Linked DNA regions of Homo sapiens: region 2 is linked to region 1. The links come from fine-mapping of genetic effects on gene expression. A gene starts in region 1. The other region holds a variant in brackets. All regions are shown on one strand. Distances are from middle to middle. Region 1 holds the start of SELENOO (selenoprotein O). Region 2 overlaps MLC1 (modulator of VRAC current 1).

What was found.
Region 2: its variant is fine-mapped to the expression of SELENOO in whole blood (TOPMed, PIP 0.97).

The regions. Positions count from the first base shown.
Region 1 is chr22:50,196,745-50,208,232 of GRCh38, forward strand. It overlaps SELENOO (selenoprotein O), which reads left to right and starts at 4,267. Exons shown (of 9, transcript NM_031454.2): 1 at 4,267-4,846; 2 at 9,573-9,776. The coding sequence starts at 4,293. TRABD (TraB domain containing) reads left to right here. Exons shown (of 10, transcript NM_001320485.2): 6 at 497-607; 7 at 705-844; 8 at 1,079-1,251; 9 at 1,331-1,442; 10 at 1,601-2,851. The coding sequence ends at 1,775. It overlaps TRABD-AS1 (TRABD antisense RNA 1), which reads right to left and starts at 4,039. Exons shown (of 2, transcript NR_186698.1): 1 at 3,332-4,039; 2 at 2,344-2,584. It overlaps SELENOO-AS1 (SELENOO antisense RNA 1), which reads right to left. Exons shown (of 2, transcript XR_938352.3): 2 at 8,837-11,488. RefSeq lists silencers at 3,587-4,526, 4,657-4,736 and enhancers at 5,097-5,336, 9,032-9,598, 9,599-10,164, 10,732-11,296.
Region 2 is chr22:50,070,615-50,079,615 of GRCh38, forward strand. MLC1 (modulator of VRAC current 1) reads right to left here. Exons shown (of 12, transcript NM_015166.4): 6 at 6,787-6,888; 7 at 6,227-6,298; 8 at 3,602-3,718. Among named protein-coding and RNA genes, the nearest start is that of MLC1, 10 kb to the right of the region's middle. RefSeq lists enhancers at 1,203-2,085, 2,086-2,967, 3,287-3,793. The variant C/T (reference allele first, on the strand shown) is at 3,574.

The sequences.
Region 1 (11,488 bases):
CACCCAGGCTGGTGATCTCGGCTCACTGCAACCTCTGCCTCCGGGGTTCAAGTGATTCTCCTGCCTCAGCCTCCCGAGTAGCTGGGATTACAGGCACCCGCCAGCACACCCGGCTAATTTTTATATTTTTAGTAGAGATGGGGTTTCGCCATGTTGGCCAGGCTGGTCTGAGAGAGAACTCCTGACCTCGTGATCCGCCTGCCTCAGCCTCCCAAAGTGCTGGGATGACAGGCGTGCGCCACTGCACCCGGCCCGTGAAGGTCTTTTCTGAAGGGAGCTACCTTTGAGAAGTGCCTGTTGGGACAGAACTCCCTGCTCTGGTCTGACCCTCTGCACGCTAGGGTGGTCCTGCACCTGTCGGGGAGGGGGCCAAGGACACAGCACTGGGCTGGGGCAGGGCTCTGCGCTGGTGCTGCCTGCCATCCCAGTTCTGCCATTCCCCCAGCGCACCCCCGCACCCGCCCCTCCAGCTGATGCCTGCTCCCTCTCTCTGCAGAACGGGCTCATGTCGGGGCTGATGCAGATGCTGCTGCTGAAGGTGTCTGCACACATCACCGAGCAGCTGGGCATGGCCCCAGGTGGCGAGTTCAGGGAGGCCTTCAAGGAGGTGGGCACAGGGTGAGGTAGGGGGTGGCCACAGGGATGTGGCTCACAGGGGTGGTCCGGGGTTCCCACTGCTCCCCAACACCCAGCCTCTGCTCCAGGCCAGCAAGGTGCCTTTCTGCAAGTTCCACCTGGGTGACCGACCCATCCCCGTCACCTTCAAGAGGGCCATCGCAGCGCTCTCCTTCTGGCAGAAGGTCAGGCTGGCTTGGGGCCTGTGCTTCCTGTCAGACCCCATCAGGTAGGGCTGCCCCCGGGACCCTGGCCGGCCTGCAGGGTGGTCTGTGGGAGGCTCCAGGCCCTCCTGTGCAGGTCCAAGCGCAGCCAATCCTCACTCAAGGCCTTCCCTGCCCTTTCCTTCCGCCACAAATCCCAAACAAACGTGCTGTGGTCCCTGCCCGGTGTCCACAGTGCCAGCCCCACCCCCCCAGCCCGTTGCCCATCCCTGCGGGGCTGCAGCCATCCCTCTCCACAGCAAGGATGACGTGGAACGCTGCAAGCAGAAGGACCTACTGGAGCAGATGATGGCCGAGATGATTGGCGAGTTCCCAGACCTGCACCGCACCATCGTCTCGGAGCGCGACGTCTACCTAACCTACATGCTGCGCCAGGCCGCGCGGCGCCTCGAGCTGCCTCGGGCCTCTGACGGTGACGGCCGCCCGCAGGCGTGGGACCCCCTGTGAGGCTGAGGCCCGAGCAGGTACTGACCCCTTGTCCTTCCCCACAGCCGAGCCCAGGAAGTGCGTCCCCTCCGTGGTCGTGGGCGTCGTGGGCATGGGCCACGTGCCTGGCATCGAGAAGAACTGGAGCACCGACCTCAACATCCAGGAGATCATGACGTGAGTGCCCGCCCCTCCCTGCAAGCCCCACCCCACAAGCCCCCAGGTGGAGGCTGAGCGCCCTGGAGGCCAACCACATGCGGCAGTGACCCAGGCATGGGGGCTGGGGTATGGGGAGCCCACCCCCAGCCAGGCCCAGCGCCCCCTCCCTCCCACAGCGTGCCCCCGCCGTCCGTCTCCGGCAGAGTGTCTCGGTTGGCCGTGAAGGCCGCCTTCTTCGGCCTGCTGGGCTACAGCCTGTACTGGATGGGCCGCCGCACCGCGAGCCTGGTCCTGTCGCTGCCCGCCGCGCAGTACTGCCTGCAGAGGGTGACCGAGGCCCGGCACAAGTAGGAGACTGCTCCCCGCCCGCTCGGGCCCCTGAGGAGCCAGTGCCCCCGCGGCACTTCTGGGTGCCAGGTGCATCCTAGCCCGCCCGAGGCCCCTGCCACCCCCCATGGGGGTCTGGGCCCGGCCTCGCCTGCCCTCCTGGGCCAGTCACCCCTCCCCCAGCCCACCCAAATAAAGGATTATTTAACTGTCTGAGCTCAGGCCTCCCGGCAGCCCCTCCCCTCCCACACTGCAGGGGCCGTTCCCCAGCTTCTGGACAAGACACCCAGCTCCGAGGGGGCAGGGGCTTATAGGAGGGGCCGAGGCGTGCGCTGCCCTCTCAGCCCTGGTGGCAGGCGGGGGACAATGGCCACTGTCCCTACCTCACTGTGCCTTCCTGTGCTCCGGCCACAGGAGCGTCGGCCCAGGGGCGGCTCCTGGGGGCTCCAGGGCAGGCGAGACTGGGAAAGGCCCAGCCCTGGAGCTCCAGCCGACCCCACCGTGCCCCTGGCATCCTGGCCCTGGCCGCCACCTCCCTGGCACCGTCTGCCTGCAGGGATTCTGTGTTTTTGGCTTTTTTAATGTCTTAAAATCTTTTACTCAGGTAATTTTAATTTCAGAGAGAAAAACTGAAGTAAATGTCAAAAAACACCAGCCTTAAATCCAAAGGGAGAGAATTCGTGTTCTTGGGTCTGTCCCGAGTGGGCTCGCGTGCAGCCAAACATCAGCTCTGGGTCCAGGCGTGGCCTCAGCTGGGAGCCTGTGTCCTGAGCCCCCGGAGCGAAGGGGTGCCTGGGGCATCTTGGCCCTCTCTGGGCAGACAATGTGTGCACCTATGTGGAAGGCCAAGGACATGGGCTGTGGCCAGGCCTGTCCCGCTCAGGCCCCCTGCCCGGCGGCCGTCTGTGTGCGGGGCCTCCCTCCTGGCTGTCCAGGACACAGCCCGTGCAGCCCCAGCCTGGACCCAGGCCATCTCTGGTTGTGTCTGTGCCGACTCGGTGTTGAATCAAATCAGGTGTGCGTCAGGAGCCGGCTGTGTCCTTCCTGCCACACTCGGGGATTCATTCCTTAGAAACTGAAATAAATTCTAATTTTGGAAACTCCTGTTTTGTGACGTGTGAACATGGGGTTCAGGTAATGAAGGATCCCTGCCTCTTCCCCCGTGCTCCAGTGCAGCGGGTACTCGTGGCCCTGCCGGGGCCCTGGGGGAAGGAACCTGCCTGGTTTCCAGCAGAAGAGACAGAGTCGGGTCCCTCCATGCTGACCTGTGGGACCCTTCTCACCCACCAGGTGGGACGCAGGTGGCCTGCTGACACTCAAGACCCTCCATACCCAGTCCCACCAGATTCCAGAGTGTGGACCAGACTGAGCCAGACTGGGGCCCCAGGGGGTCGAGGAGACAGATCAGGAGGGCCCAGGGCCTGGGGAATGGGGAGGGGTAACACCTGCCAAGGAGGATGCTGGGAACGGGCGCCCAGAGCGGCCGGGGGGAGGGGGCTGCTGAAGAGGGAACGGTTGCTGTGGGCTGCAGAGGAGGGTTGGGCACGGGGACCTCACCACATTATCCCTCATCCAGTTACCTGCCCAACGCACGCGGAGGGTCCTGAGGGCTTCACCCGCAGCCCCAAAGGGGCAGAGCTGGGGTCACGCAGAGTCTCGGAAGCCCACGCTGTGGCCCCAGGAGAAGCTTCTGGATGTAGCTCCTGTATGTGAAGGGTGGGCTCGCGCCGCTGCCGGAATAAAGGGAAACCACAGGCAGGAGGGAGGCGCGTCCAGGATCCGCGGCCACCGGCCTCTCAGACAGTCCTCTGGGGCCGGGGCCGGAGGAGATGGAAAGCGGGGGCACCACAGACTCATCTGAACCCCCGCGTTCATTCGGACACACAGACCCCAAATTCCTCCCCCAGGGGTCGGGTCCCTCAAGCCAGCCGAAGACCCCGGTGCCCGCCCAGCCCTCCGGGAGGGTCTGCGCCTGCGGCCTCGCGGGGCCTCTCCGAGCCCGGGCGCTGTTCCATGGGCGGGGCACAGATCCAAGGCCCCTTCCCTCCTAGACGGCAGGCGAGGGGCCCGAGAGGCCGGAGGCCAGGGGACAAGGTCCCCGAGAGGCGGCGCGAGGCTCCGGCGGCCCAGAACCGCGGCGGGGTCCGGGTGGGGTCCCGGCCGCCCGTGGGGCGCGGGGCTAAGCCCCGGCCCGACCCGAACGGACGCGGGCCTCGGTCCCCGCTGCCGGCGCCGGTGCAGCCGAGGAAATCCGGGGCTGCCCGAGCGGGGTCGTCGCTGGCGGTCTCGGAGGCGTTCCCATCTGTCACCCCGTTCGCATCAGCGCGCGCCCCGTGACGCCGACAGCCACCCCGGACGCCTCCGACCCTCCGGCCGGGAGATGCGGATAGACGGACGAGGCAGCCAATTAGAGCCCGGCCAGACACCGCGACCCCTCCCCCCACCCGCCCCACTCTCGCCCACTGGCGATTGGGTTGCGGGACGCGCGGGGCGGGGCTTCCGGGCGGGGCAGGCTGGCTTCCGGCGGGAGCGGGGCCGCGGATGGCCGTATACAGGGCAGCGCTCGGGGCTTCGCTCGCGGCTGCCCGACTCTTGCCCCTCGGTCGCTGTTCCCCGTCGCCGGCGCCCCGCTCTACGTTGTCGGGCGCCGCCATGGAGCCCGCGCCTCGCTGGCTGGCGGGGCTGCGCTTCGACAACCGCGCCCTGCGCGCCCTGCCCGTGGAGGCGCCGCCGCCCGGTCCCGAGGGCGCCCCGTCCGCGCCGCGGCCCGTGCCCGGGGCCTGCTTCACCCGCGTGCAGCCCACCCCGCTGCGGCAGCCGCGCCTCGTGGCGCTGTCAGAGCCCGCGCTGGCGTTGCTGGGCCTGGGCGCGCCGCCCGCGCGCGAGGCCGAGGCCGAGGCCGCGCTGTTCTTCAGCGGCAACGCGCTCCTGCCGGGCGCCGAGCCCGCCGCGCACTGCTACTGCGGCCACCAATTCGGCCAGTTCGCCGGGCAGCTGGGCGACGGCGCCGCCATGTACCTGGGCGAGGTGTGCACGGCGACCGGCGAGCGCTGGGAGCTGCAGCTCAAGGGCGCCGGGCCCACGCCCTTCTCCAGGTGGGCCGGGGCGGGCGAGGGGCGCGGGTGGGTCCTCCCCGCCGGGGCGCCCCTTCCCTCCGCCCGGCGCGGTGTTGGGGGCGTCCGGCGGCTACTGCCAAGTGGGGCCTCCCCTGCACCCGCGGGAGCGCGGTGCTGGCAGCCGCCCGCGCCCTGTGCTTATCAACCCGCCGAGGACCTTGGAGTCAGCTCCACCAGGGACGCCGCTCATGTTTACCGACGTTCGCTGGGGCTCCAAACCCAGGGGCGGGAGCCGGGATGAGAGGTTAGGCTAACCCTAACCCTAACCCCGCAGGTCCCCAGCCTTCCTCCGATCGCTCGTGGGGCGGGCCGCTTCGTCCAGCAGCCTCGCTCTGCGACTGACTTCACGGAGGCCTGGCCCTGACTTCCCTGCGGGCAGCCCTTTTTAACCCCGAAGTGAGGTGGGCATCGTTTAGATTTCTGTGGGGGGGCACACAGGTGGTCTAATAAGGCAGGATCTGGGTCCAGATGCCGCCAGGCCCACCGGGGAGCCGTGCACGCGCCACCTGCCTCCTGTGTATAGACAGCGCTTGGGTCTGTTCTGCTCTTTTCTACTAAACAATGTACTTACTCCATATTCTTTACTGCTTTTGTGAATGACTAGGAAAGTGTACATTTTATGTTCAGAGAAATGCTAAACCCGCATCTCATCCGGCCCCTCCCTGTGCTCTCATCACCTCCCCCTCCAGCACCTGAAATGCCCCTCGGTCCCTCAGCATCCCTTCCCCGGGGCTCCATCTCCCAAGCAAGCTCCTCAGACTGAGGGTCTTCCTCACTCCCCCGTCTCCAAATCCGTTCTGTTCTGTGTCTGAGGGCAACCTGGCTCTGGCTCTCCCTCCCCACCCCCAGCGACCTGCTTAGAGTTGACAGCACCGGCCGCCCACTGGAGCGTTTCTGACCCTTGGAACGTGGTGGAAATGCTGCTCAGCCTGGGGCCTGCTTGTCCTGTGAGCATTTTTTTTTTTTAATTTTTGTTTTTCTTTTTGGCGATCATCTTAAACTTTATGTTTTCATTTTTGGTGATATTTTAAAGTTAAAAAGACAATTTTTTTTATGAGAGTAATCTGTCGCTGGAAGACACTTTTTATGTTTGAAGACTTGAGTATTAACTCACTGCTTTCAGACCTGAGAGCTGCTAGAATATATTTTCTCCTAAAAATTAAGGAGTCCTTTGACCTTTACTCAGGCCCTGCCTGACATCCCCACACGTGTCCTGGGGTCCCTGGCCTCACCAGTTCTCCAAGATTGAGGCTAACGTCTGAAGTGGCTGTGAGAAGGAAGAGACTTGAACAGTGAAAACTGAAAAACATGAAGAAAATAAAGAAAACATAAATAAATGGAAACATCCCTTGTTCGTGGGTTGGATAACTTAATATTAGAAAGACAACGGTACTCTTTGAAGAGATTCAGTATAGTCCTTATCAAAATACCAATGACAGTTTTTGCAAAAATAGAAAAACCCATTCTAAAATTCACATGGGGTCAGGTGCAGTGGCTCACTCCTGTAATCCCAGCACTTTGGGAGGCCAAGGCAGGAGGATTGCTTAAGGCCAGGAGTTGGAGACCAGCCTGGGAAACAGCAAGACCCTGTCTCTTCAAAAAAATATTTTTTTTTATTAGCTGGGCATGGTGGCGTGTGCTTCTAATTGCAGCTACTCAGGAGACTGAGGTGGAAGAATCACTTGAGCCCAGGATTCAAGGCTGCAGTGAGTTGTGATTATCCCATTGCACTCCAGCCTGGATGACAGAGTGAGACCCTGTCTCAAAAAGTAATACAATTCATATGGAATCTCAAGGGACCCTGAATGGACAAAACAATCTTGAAGAAAGTTGGAGGACTCATGCTTCCTGATTTCAAAACTTACTACAAAGCCGCAGTCAGCAAAACAGTATGGCATTGGCATAAGGATAGACATAGACCAGTGGGATGGAATAAAGAGCCTAGAAATAAACCTTCACATATATGGTCAGCAAATTTTCAACAAGTGTGCTGAGACCATTCAATGGAGAAAGACTTTTCAACAAATGGTGCTGGGAAAACTGGATCCTCATGCAAAAGAATGAAGCTGGGTCCTTAACTACACCATGAACGAAGTTAAGAGTGGACCAAAGACCTAAACATAAGAGCTAAAACTCCTAGAGAAAATAGGGAAAATGCCTCATGACATTGGATTTGGCAGCGTTCTTGGCTGTGACACAAAAGGCACAGGCAACTAAAGAAACAGGCAAACAAGACTTCATGAACACTTTAAAAATTAGGCATAAAAATACAGTATTAACAGTAAAAATGCAGCCCACAGAATGGGAGGAAACATTTGCAATTCATATATCTGATAAGTAATTAAGATCCAGAATATACAGAGAACTCTCAAAACTCAGCAACAGGAAAAAAAAATTCAAAAATGGACAAGTATTTGAATAGACATTTCTTCAAAGATGTGGCCAATAAGCACGTGAAGAGTTTATAACATGAGAAGACGCTCAACGTCATCAATCATTAGGGAAATGCAAACCAAAACTACAGTGGGACAGCACCTCATACCCATTGGGATGGCAGTTATTTAAAAAAAGGTTGACCTGGGCGTGGTGGTGGGTGCCTGTAATCCCAGCTACTCAGGAGGCTGAGGCAGAATTGCTTGAACCCGGGAGGTGGAGCTTGCAGTGAGCCAAGATCACACCACTGCACTTCAGCCTGGGCGACAGGGCAAGACTGTCTCGGAAAAATAAAAGGTTGGTCGGGCACAGTGGCTCACGCCTGTAATCCCAGCACTTTGGGAGGCTGAGGTGGGCGGATCATTTGAGGTCAGGAGTTTGAGACCAGCCTGGCCAACATGGTGAAACCCCAGCTCTACAAAAAATACAAAAATTAGCCGGGCATGGTGGAGCGTGCCTGTGATCCCAGCTACCTGGGAGGCTGAGGCAGGAGAATCACTTGAACCCAGGAGGCGGAGGTTGCAGTGAGCCGAGATCACGCCACTGTCCCTGGGTGACAGAGTGAGACCCTGTCTCAAAAAAAAAAAAAAATCGTAAGTTAAAAAGTGTTGCGGCTGTGGAGAAATTGGAACCCTTCTGCACTGTTGGTGGGAATGTAAAATGATAGAGTTGCTGTGGAAAACAGTGTGGAAGTTCCTCAAATAATTAAATCACCACATGATTCAGCAGTTCTGCTTCTGGGTATATCCCCAAGAGCAGGATCTCAAGATTTGTATACCGATATTCATGGCCAAAAGGCAGAACAAGTGTCTATCAGCAGGTGAATGGATTAAATGTGATGTGTACATACAGTGGAATATTATTCATCCTTAAGAAAGAAGATGCTGATATGCTACAACACGGATGAACCTGGAGGACGTGGTGCAGTGAAATAAGCTGGTCACAGAGAGACAAATCCTGGGTGATCCCACTTACATGAGGTACCTAGAGAGCCACATTCATAGAGACAAAGTAGAATGGTGGGTCCCAGGGGCTGGAGGGAGTAGAGGAATCGGGAGCCAGTGTTCGATGGGGACAAAGTTTCAGTTTCTGGGTCCCAGGGGCTGGAGGGAGTAGAGGAATCGGGAGCCAGTGTTCGATGGGGACAAAGTTTCAGTTTCACAAGACAGATTTCTGGACATGGATGGGGGTGATGGTTGTGCAACATTATGAACGTATTTAATAGCACTGATCTGTACACTTATAAATGGCTAAGATGGGCCGGGCGCAGTGGCTCATGCCTGTAATCCTAGCACTTTTGGGAGGCCAAGGTGAGAGGATCGCTTGAGCCCAGGAGTTCAAGACTAGCGTGGGCAACATAAACCCCGTCTTTACAAAAAGTAAGACAAGAATTAGCAGAGCTTGGCGGCATTGCCTGTAGTCCCATCTGCTTGGCAGGCTGAGGCGAGAGGGTGGTGCTGCAGTGAGCCAGGTTTGTGCCACTGCACTCCAGGCCAAGTGACAGAGTGAGACCCTGTCTTTAAAAAACAAAAAAAGTGGCTTAAGATGGTAAATTTATTTTATGTGTATTTTACCACAGTGAAAATAATTGAAGAAAAAGGGGGCAGTCATCTGGCCCTCAGATCTCACATCCCCTTCCCCATGCCTGTCCGATTCCCTGGCCTCGGCAGTTCTGCAGGACATGAGGCCGAGGCCGGGGACCCGAAGACCTGTGGGGAAGGGAATGCGAGACCTGGGGGTCAGAAGTGGCTGAGTGGCCTGAGGCCAGCGCTGTCGGAGCCTCGGGCGGGTTTTGCGGGGCGGGCAGCTGGCTTCTCTGCCCTGCCTCCTCCCACTGTGGGTGTGGGGGCCCCGGCAGGCACAGAGGAGCTCATTCCTCAGCTGGCCCGTACCGGGGCACCCATCCTGGTGCAAAGGCTGTTGTGTCCCATGGGGCAGGGCTGCCCCAGGCCCTTTGTCCCCACTGTGCAGTCACACAGTCCTGGCTTCTGCTGCGGAACCCTCGTTCTGGGCAGGAAGACGGGCTGCTGCGTGTGTTCAGGCCCATTTTTACCAGAGGCTGTGCCGACAACCTGCTGGGCTGTGAGGTTGCTGGAACTGGGCGGTGTTGGAGGCTCACAAGGCACCTGATGTCACCTGGGACGGGCGGTTTTCAGGGACGTGCAAGCTGCTCACGTTACACGCGTTCCCTCCTTTCCATGTGCTGCCCGGAATCCTGGTGTTGGGTGACCTCCTGACCGGCCCACGTAGTGAACTCTGTGTTTGGTTTCAGACAGGCCGACGGTCGCAAGGTCCTACGGTCAAGCATCCGGGAGTTTCTATGCAGCGAAGCCATGTTCCACCTGGGAGTCCCCACCACACGGGCCGGCGCCTGCGTCACGTCCGAGTCCACGGTGGTGCGCGACGTGTTCTATGATGGTAATCCCAAATATGAACAATGCACGGTTGTGTTGCGTGTAGCTTCCACTTTCATAAGGTAATGCCGGGGGCCTTTCGGCCTGTCTACACGCACTTGCTTAGAGTCCTAGGAGATTTGGGCCTGTGCTGCTAGGATTCTGGTAGAAACAAACCCAGATGACCGCCTTGGCCTCTTCTGAAAGTCCAGCCTGTCCCTGGCAGCCTCAGAAGCTGCCTGTCCGCGAAGTAGCTGCGTCACGCCCACTGGGAGGGATCTGAGTGCAAAGGCATTTGGTACTCAGTTAGGACACTTGTGCTGAGCCCTCCCACGTGCCCGGCCAGGCCCTCGTTGCAGCCAGAGATGGCCCTGCGGGAGCTGGTGTGTCTCAAAGCACCAGCAGGGGGCTCCAGGGCCACGGGCACCAGAGAAGGGTCCCTGCCTGGTGCTTCTGGGGGGGAGGGGGTCCCTGAGCCTGAGGCTGGGGACAGTGTCCAGAGCTGTTTGCTGGAGTTTATGACAAGGAACTACTTAGACTTGACTGAGGAAATGGCCACTGAAGAAGCAGGAGCCGCAAGCTGTGCGCGGTGTCCTGCTCAGGCTTTCTGATCTGATGGTCCAGTTGCTCGTTGGTCTGGAGTCCTAGGCTGGCTCCTGTCTGACGTGAGCCATCAGTTATCAGTTCTCTTTTCTTTTTTTTTGAGACAGAGTATCGCTCTGTCACCCAGGCTGGAGTGCAGTGGCGTGATCTTGGCTCAGTGCAACCTCCGCCTCCCGGGTTCAAGCGATTCTCCTACCTCAGTCCCCCCAAATAGCTGGGGTTACAGACGTGCGCCACCACGTCCAGCTAATTTTTATATTTTTAGTACAGACAGGGTTTCTCCATGTTGGCCAGGCTGGTCTCGAACTCCTGACCTCTGGTGATTCACCCATCTTGGCCTCCTAAAGTGCTAGAATTATAGGCCTGAGCCACCGCGCCCGGCCCCCAGCCATCAGTTTTTGATGTCACCTTGCCACCTGGCGTCTAGCACTTCCTCCTGAACACCTGAATGTAGTTGTCTGTTGGTCTTGCAGCCCCGTCCTGCCCGGGACACCAGCCGCCCACCCCTGAGGCTGCCTGTGGGCCTCTGGCTTTTCCTGTCCTGCAGGGGGATGGGAAAGATCTGGGGCCACGACTTCCTCTGAGGCCCCGCCCAGCGGCAATGCTGGCATTGTTGTGAAGTCCACCCTGTGTGCACACAGCATCCCTGCCCTGGGCCCGCTGGTTGCCAGTAGTAACCCCAGTTGTGACAACGAAAAATGTGTCCAGACCTTGCCTGATGTCCCCTGGGGGGCAGTCACCCTGGGGGACGGCTGCTGGTGAGCGCTCACAGATGTGTGTCCATAGCAGCTGACTCTCCTTTGCATCTCCTCCCCGAGGACGCAGTGGCAGGCAGGCCACGCCCCTCCGTGTGTAAGACCTGCCGAAAACACTCCTCGTGGGGTTGGGGTGGGAGTGCAGGGGCCTTGGTGGTTTCTACACCCATGGGCCTGCCCGGCACGTGCCCCAGACTGTGCAGACAGGGCCTGGTCAGTGGCTGGATGTTGACCAAACGTGGAATATGTCTGTGTGTCAGGTAAAGCTGTGGTGCATTCTGGTTGGTTGTTTGCTTTTGTTTTAATCAAGGTTCTCTTTCTGCTGTAGGGCTGCATGATTTAGCAGCCACAACAGGCCAGGCGCGGTGGCTCACGCCTGTAATCCCAGCACTTTGGGAGGCCGAGGCGGGTGGATCACGAGGTCAGGAGTTTGAGAC
Region 2 (9,001 bases), 130 kb before region 1:
GGAAATAGTCGAAGAAGTCGAATTCCAAACATGTGCCCTCCCACCAGTGACCCCTCCATGCAGGCTGCCTGGCTGGCTTGCTGTGGGGGGCAGGGGGGATGGTGCAGTGCCCAAAGGCGCAGCTGGGGCAGGGACGGGTCCGCAGGGAAGCAGGGGTAGCCTCTCAGAGGTTTTGTGTGCTCTCTGTTCCTCAACCATTGGTTTAAAATTTTAAGCCTGTAGAAAAGCTGCAAGAGCAGTGGAGGGGGCATCTGAGGCCCCAAAATCACCAGAGTCCTTGACATTCATATCTGTGCTCTCTCCAGCTCTCCCAGATAGCCTGATGCCTGAACACCTGAGAGTGCTGGCTGAGCCCAGGGCACACTCTTGCACACACCCAAAGCAGGACCACGCTCGAGAGACTCCACGTGGGGCCGATGTGGTCCATGCCCAGATTCTTCCAGTTGTCCTCATCATGTTCTTTCTTTTTAATTTTTTAATAATTTTTCTTTCTTCTTCTCCTTTTTTTTTTTAAGATGGAGTCTTGCTCTGTCACCCAGGCTGGAGTACGGTGGCGCGATCTTGACTCACTGCAACCTCCACCTCCCAGGTTCAAGCCTCCTGAGTAGCTGGGATTATAGGCACCCACCACTACACCAGGCTAATGTTTGTATTTTTAGTAGAGACGGGGTTTCGCCTTGTTGGCCAGGCTGGTCTCGAACTCCTGACCTCAGGTGATCCGCCCGCCTCGGCCTCCCAAAGTGCTGGGATTACAGGCATGAGCCACCGCACCTGGCCCTGGTCATGTTATTTCTAGAGCTGTTTGTTTGTTTGCTCCTGATCCGGATTCGGTCTGCCATTGAGCTCGTAGTCTCCTTGTGGGTCCCTGTTAATCGGGGAGTCCCTCAGCCTCTGTCACCTCCGTTACCTGGTCGCTTCTGGGGGGTGCAGCCCATCAGCTGCAGTCGGGCCTCCGTGTGGGACAGGATTTCCTCATGATGAGCCTTGGGGAGCCTCGGAGGAGACTCTGCAGTGCCCCAGGGTGTGGACTGCCCCTTCCTGATGACGCTGACTTGACTCACTGGGTTAGGGGGATCTGTAGGTTCCTCTGTTGGATGGGCACCTCTTCCTTTTTATAACCAAGAAATGCCCTTTTCCCACTTATTGTGAGGAGCCTGCCTTAGTTCCGCACAATGTAGGCAGAGGGAGGATGCATGCTCTTCATCCTCTTCATCTCCCCGAAGGTGTCCAGGTGCCAGCACCCCAGCCCGGCCTGCTGGGGAGGGGGCTGCATCAGCCAGGGGCTGTGGTGAGAGGGTGGGCAGGACAGAGATGGGCTCCGAGCAGGGGAGCCTGGGCAGCAGGGAGAAGACTGGGGAGCTGAGGGGCTGCCAGTGCAAAGGCCCCAAGCCAGCTGCTGAGGTGGGTGTGGCCCTGGCCAGGGAGGCTGAGGTGTCAATACAGGGGTCTCTCCTGGGCTTGGTGCTTCTGAAAGGGCCTTCTAGCTGTAAGCAGCAGTGAGGGCACAGGAAGGGATGGTGGCTTCAGGGTGGCCTATTCAGGGCCCCAGTGAGCCATGGGAGGGCGGGAGTTTCCCCGTTCACCCAGCATGGCCACTCCGGCCCCTGCCCTAGAGGGCCAGGAAGCTCAGCCATAGGGGCTGGGGCAGCTCAATCAAGGGCCCTGCCCTGGAAGGGTCCAGGCCTGCAGCCCAGCCCCCAACTCCAGCCCCGAGCACCTGCCTCCAGCCCATGGTGCAGGGCCTGGGCCCCTCTGCCGCACCCAGGCCAGACTCAGGCAGGTGGAGCTGGGTCCCTCACCACGCATGCCTCAGCGCTCTCCTCTCCTCCTGGGGTCTCCTGCCCTGAAGAGAGGGTTGGGAGTGTGGGTGGATTTAGGGGCGCCCAGGGGGCAGCACCTGATGGGCAGGGGGTGCTCTCCGGGAAGATGGAGAGAGCAGAGCCACCCCCGAGGCAGGAGGGGTCTGCGGGATGGGAGGGGCCTCTGTGATGAGGGCTGACTGCAGGGACAGGGAAGGGGGTAGGGCAAGTGCCTTTCATTCTCAACTTTTTGGAGGTATGTGGTCTCTGTCCTCCCTCAGCTTCGGGATGTAATCCCTGCGTTTCAGACCCCAGGGTCAGTTGTACACACCTGCAGGCGTCATTCTCTCTGTCACAGACCCGCTTGGGTGGGCACCCATGTGAGTTCTCTGTCTCAGTAGCTGGGCCTGGTCCTACCCCTTCCGGGGGTGTGGCTCTATCCCAGCTCGGTCCTGCCTGGGTCTCTTTCCCTCTCTGAGCGCCTCAGCAGCCCACTAGGTCGGGCACTGGTGCCCTGGGGGCATTGCTCTGTGCCTACTCGCCCCCACAGGGAGCTGAAACACAGCTGCTGCCAATGGGATGTGTCCACCTGGCAGGCGTGGGCCCCTTCTCGGCAGTCCACCCGGCCACACCGTTCCCGGGCAGGCGTGGGCCCCTTCTCCGCAGTCCACCCGGCCATACCATTCCCGGGCAGGCGTGGGCCCCTTCTCGGCAGTCCACCTGGCCATACTGCTCCCAGGCAGGCATGGGCCTCGGCAGCTTCAGGAAGAGCCCCACTGCTGCCCAGGAGGAGCCTGTAGCTGATGCTGGGTGCTCACCATTCCTGCTCATGTACATAAGAGAGCAGGGGCAAAATCTAAAAGTCCACACAGCATGAGACAAACCAGGGGCTGGCCGTCAACACCGGTGTGCAGGCCACTACGCGGCAAGGTGCTGAGAACCTCGTGGGGTCTGCGTCCGGAGGCAGGTGGGTGGTGGCTCTGGGTGGGCTACAGGCTGTGAGGGGATCTGGGGTGTGGAGGGGTTGCTCTAGACTCACTGTTCTGAGGGAACACACCTGTAATCCCAGCACTTTTGGGGGCCGAGGCAGGCAGATCACTTGAGGTCAGGAGTTCAAGACCAGCCTGGCCAACATGGCAAAACCCGGTCTCTACTAAAAATACAAAAAAATTAGCTGGGCATGGTGGTCCACGCCTGTAATCCCAGCTACTTGGGAGGCTGAGGTGGGCAAATTACTTGAACCCGGGGAGGGGCAGAGGTTGTAGTGAGGTGATATTGAGCCACTGCACTCCAGCCTGGGTGGCAGAGTGAGACTCCATCTCAAAAAAATAAATAAATAAAATAAATAAAACAATGCCCATGTATTGAGCATGTGGCATGTGTCAGGTGCTGTGTGACACATCTGCTGCAGTAACATTTAATGTAAAGTAATAACAGAAATATGCTGCATTGTATGAAACACATAGTGTAATATAAATGCATTATATATTAGAAAATTATATAGAATAATAAACATCTACAGCCTGACATTCATATGTTAAAAAGATTAGAATAATAAAAATAATTGGTATTTTTTTCAGGAAAAATAATATAAAATAATCACACAAACTAATATAAAAGCAGTTAATACTTTGACTCATTTAATCCTTAACTCCCCAGTTCTTCTGAAGTTGGGGGCCAGCGAGGACCCTCTGTGGTGACTCTCTGTCTGAATGCACCAAGACTGAGCTCGGGGCCCAGCCACGCAGGATCTGAGCAGTGTGGCCCAGAGCGG[C/T]GGCGGGCGGGCCAGAGGGGTTACTCACGGCCACTAGGATCCAAAAGAACGTCACTGAGAGGTGTGGGCCTGAAACTGAGTCATCCACGTTCAGGGCAATGATCCCCCCGAGGACGGCAGAGATGCCTGCGATTACCTCGACGACCTGGAGGGGACAGGACAGCATCGGCTCATAAGGAAGTGGAGACACCCCCAGATTCCCAGAATGCACTGTGCAGACATGGACCCCCAGGAGCAGGGTCCAGTGGGCTGGCCCCAGATCTAACCGTGGAGGAGCCCACCTGGATGGACCCCCAGCCTCACCTGGCCCAGACCCCCTCTGCCCTCAGCTGCGGCTTTTCACGTCCCTCCTGGAGTAAAATAGCCAAAGAGGTGTTTCCCCCACTGCTGCTTTTGTCCACAGAAACTGAGGGTATTGACCTGACAGTGGTGAGGGCAGAAAACCAAGACCCTCAGACTCCCTTCCCTGTCTCACAGTGTGGCAGGCGGCGGTGCTCAGACCCTGGACCCCATCGAAGGGACTCGGGAAAACAGGCCTGGGGCAGAAGTAGCTTCCCATAGGACACACCCACCCGTGCCATGTGGGTTTGCCATTGCCACGGCAACACTGGACGTCACCACCCCTTTCCGTGGCAATGATCCAACCACCTGGACGTTAGCACCCCTTTTCTAGAAATTTCTGCATAATCTGCCCCTTAATTAGCATATACTTAAAAGTGGGTATAAATAGGAGGCAGAGCTGTCTCTGAGCTGCTGCTCGAGGCACCTGCCGGTTGGAGAGCCCTGCTATACTGCCACTGCAAACAAAGCTGCTGTCTGTCACCTCCAGCTCGCCCTTGAATTCTTTCCTGGACAAAGCCAAGAACCCTGCTGGCCTAAGCCCTGGTTGTGGACTCATCTGCCCGGCACCATCAGGGCCGCAACCAGCACCGCCAGACTCAGGGAGGGGCCGCAACCAGCACCGCCAGACTCAGGGAGGGGCCGCAACCAGCACCGCCAGACTCAGGGAGGGGCCGCAACCAGCACCGCCAGACTCAGGGAGGGCTGGGGAAGAAACACACGCCCGAAAACCTGCTCCCGTGAAGGATCTCTGTGAGTCGCAAACACAGAGCTGTGGCCAGCAGGAAAGCCAGGCATAAGGAGTGGGCCAGCAAGGGCTTGGGGGCCGGAAGGGACCTGGGCAGCCAGGCCTTGCGTCCAGAAGGCACAAAACTCCAGATGCACAAATAAAGCTGAATTCCCAGCCAGGCACGGCGGCTCATGCCTGTAATCCTAGCACTTTGGGAGGCCGAGGCAGACGGATCGTGAGGTCAGGAGTTTGAGTACAGCCTGGCCAACATGGTAAACCCCGTCTCTACTAAAAATAACAAAAATTAGCTGGGCGTGGTGGCGGGCACCTGTAATCCCAGCTACTCGGGAGGCTGAGGCGGGAGAATCGCTTCAACTCAGGAGGCAGAGGTTGCAGTGAACCAAGATCACACCACTGCACTCTAGCCTGGGCAACAGCAGGACTCCATCTCAAAAAAAAAGGAAAAAAAAAAAAGAAGCAGAACGGAAATGGAACCTAAGAGAGGACTGAAATGCTAAATAAGGGGAAGTGAAGGCACTGGGAAACACACACAGACACAGTCAAGCACACAGGAGGCTGTCCCATTGTTGGAGTAAAAAGGCAAAATGTCACTAAATGTCACAAGCTAGACAACAAGGCCAAGGCGGAGGGAAGGGGGACAGACCCCGCATGGTCTGTTTATCAAGGAGCGTATTAGAATATGAAGGGCAACCCCCAAAAGAATACTGAAAAATTTCCCATCCAAAATTAGAGGGAAAAGGAAGGACGGAGCCTCTGCCAATTCAAAAGAAGGCAGGGAAGGAGGGAAAAAGGCAAAATCAGGGAAAATGGAAAACTCAAAAGATGGTAAAAATAAGTAGAAATTTATCAGTAATAACTCTCAGAGGAAATGGGCTACATTCAAAAAGCTAGGGAGAGAGAATGACAAGATAAAGAACAAAATACAGTTACGTGCTGCTTATAACAATTATACCAAAGTACAAGGCAAGAAAAGTTGAAAGTAAGAAGGAGAAAGAGGCCAGGTGCGGTGGCTCACACCTGTAATCCCAGCACTTTGGAAGGCCTGGGTGGGTGGATCACTTGAGGTCAGGAGTTCGAGACCAGCCTGGCCAACATGCCGAAACCCTGCCTCTACTAAAAATAAAATAATTAGCCGGGCGTGGTGGCATGTGCCTGTAGTCCCAGCTCCTCAGGAGGCTGAGGCAGGAGAATTACTTGAACCTGGGAGGCAGAGGTGGCGGTGAGCTGAGATAGCACCACTGCACCCCAGCCTGGCTGATGGAGTGAGACTCCGTCTCAAAAAAAAAAAAAAAATTCCTCGGGGACAACAGTGTCAACTCACCTACGGCAGTAACAAACTCCCCCTAAAAATTACAGGACACCAGCAGCACCTTTCGCGATAAGGAAGGTTATTACCAATGATACCAATAACAGACTAGAGTCTCCACAGATGAGGCGCACGCCGCCATGCGGTGTAGACAGCCAACTCTTCGCCAACTCGGAATCGAAACGTGACGTTTAATCCAGCCTCAGTCACCCCCGACAGAGTATGAGAGAAAAGAGAAAGAAGGGAAGTTTTCTTACTGAGTAAGATTTCAGGACCCGAGCAGGAAATGGCACTTCGTCCAGAATGTTGGCGCTGTCAGACATGGAGCCCTACGAAGAAACAGAACTGTCACCCCGGGTGCACGGGCACAGGGACTCAGCACTGCCGCTGGCATCCGGCCGCCGTGGGCAGTGGGTCAGGTCAGCCTGCCGTGTAGATGCGAGACCGCCTTGGAGGCGCCCGTGGATCTTTGGGCTTGAGGAAATGTTCACACACATTGTCCTTGCATATGAAAATTAGCAGATGTGGTGTCTCCTGGTGATCCCCTGGGGACGAGCACTGGACTGAGTCAGGCTTAGGGGGAGGGGAGGGTACAGCATCTGTCTTCACCTCCCTGTAGCCAGCGGCCGCCAACCCCTCACCCAGCTCCAGAGCCCCTCCTGGCCGGGGTTTCTGAGACCCAGGAGAGAGGGGTCTCATGGGAATGCCCTGGAGCAGCCCAGATCGGCCCTCCGAGGGTGACGCTGAGACCCACCTCGCTCACCCTGGGGTGATGCCTCTGCACCCCCTGCCCTGCGGGGTCAGAAGCTGCACCCACCTTCTTTTTCTTGCAGTCCTCCTCGCTGGACCGTGCAGCGATGATCACCGTGGCCGCCATGAGCAGCTCCAGCAGGAGCAGCAGGATGAGGTTGAAGTTGATCTGCCAAGGGGCACACACGCTTCAGCACCGGGCCCGCCTTTCTCACGCCACCGCGCTTCAGCGTCCACCGGACCACCTCACGGGCAGGCTGCGCAGGACTCTCAGCCACGGTCCCCACTTTTCCCATCCAGGGCCAGCTGTGAGGCACTGTGGGCTGCACACTCTCCTGCCTCACATGGGCCTTTGGGGTCTTTTAGTTTTTAAAACCATTCTTAGTGCAAAGGCTGTACAAACACAGGCCAGGGCTGGATTTGGCCTTGGGCTCTGGTCTACCGACCCCATTCTGAACGCTCCTTGTTCCCACAAAAGCCTTCACGGAATGTTTAGAGTAGCTTCATGCATGATTGTCAAGCACTGAGAACATAAGGTTTTTTGGAGGGTAATGAAACGACTGCAGGCCCTGACCGTATTGGCAGTGACATGAATTTATATGTGTGTTAATATTCATAGAAGCATACATTTTAAAAAGTCAGTGTAGCTGTCTGACAATTTTTTTTTTTTTTTTGAGACGGAGGTTCGCTCTTGTTGCCCAGGCTGGAGAGCAAATGGCGCAATCTCGGCTCACCGCAACCTCTGCCTCCTGGGTTCAAATGATTGTCCTGCCTCAGCCTCCCGAGTAAGCTGGGGTTACAGGCACCTACCAGCACGCCCGGCTAATTTTGTATTTTTAGTAGAGAGGGGTTTCTCCATGTTGGTCAGGCTGGTCTCGAACTCCTGACCTCAGGTGTTCCGCCCACCTCGGCCTCCCAAAGTGCTGAGATTACAGGCGTGAGCCACCGCGCCCGGCCTGACAATTTTTAAAATACATTTAAAAAAGAAAGAGTGCAGAACCACATTCAACTAAAAACAGAGCCTCGAAATATATGATGTCATAACAGAGCCACAGGAAGATGTAGATATATCAGTAGAGGTGGGGAAGGACTTGAAACACTTTTCTTAGAAACTGACAGATCAGGCAGAGGGAGGCGGCTCACGCCTGTGATCCCAGCACTTTGGGGGACCGAGGCGGTTGGATCACCTGAGGTCAGGAGTTCCAGACCAGCCTGACCAACATGGTGAAACCCCTTGTCTACTAAAAATACAAAAATCAGCTGGGTACGGTGGCGCACGCCTGTAATCCCAGCTACTCGGGAGGCTGAGACAGGAGAATTGCTTGAACCCGAGAGGCGGAGGTTGCCGTGAGCCGAGATGGAGCCACTGCACTCCAGTCTGGGCGACAGAGCGAGACTGTCTCAAAAAAAAAAAAAAATGACAGATCAAAAAGACAAAAGCATAAGGAGAACTCTAAAATTCAGAAAAGTGTGACATTAACCTTGTCTTTTATTTTCTGTATTTCTGGTGCTTTGACCTCTGGCTCCTTCCTGATCCTGAAGAGACAGCTCCTCCCAGGGCCAGCCGACAGCTACAGTGAGTAACTTGCCTCTGAGCAGTTCAGATACAAGCCACTGACCCAGGGACCACACCCCATCTGCTCTCCGTCTTAATAAAGAAGCGTCACAGGCCGGGCGCGGTGGCTCATACCTGTAATCCCAGCACTATGGGAGGCCGAGGTGGATGGATCACCTGAGGTCAGGAGTACAAGGCCAGCCTGGCCAACATGGTGAAACCTTGTCTGTACTAAAAATACAAAAATTAGCCGAGTGTGGTGGCACACGCCTGTAATCCCAGCTACTCCAGAGGCTGAGGCAGGAGAATTGCTTGAACCCGGGAGGTAGAGGTTGCAGTGAGCCGAGATGGCGCCACTACACTCCAGCCTGGGCGACAGAGCGAGATTCCTTCTCAAAAACAAAACAAAACAAAACAAAAAGGCAGTGTGGGTGTTCCCACTGGGTCCTCCTGTGTCTGCTCATTTTTCCTGCCCAACGAGAGTGGCCAGGACATACTCAAGCCTCCTCCAGCTTTCCCCAATCATCAAGTGCATTCCACATGTCACACAAAGCAGGAGGCCCTCCTTGCAGTATCTCGGATGAGGTCCTGGTTTCCTTTGGGATTTTTGTCTTTTTTTTTTTTTTTTTTTTTTTGAGACGGAGTCTTGCTCTGTCTTCCAGGCTGGAGTGCAGTGGCGCCATCTCGGCTCCCACAACCTCTGCCCCCTACAATTTCACATTTTTGT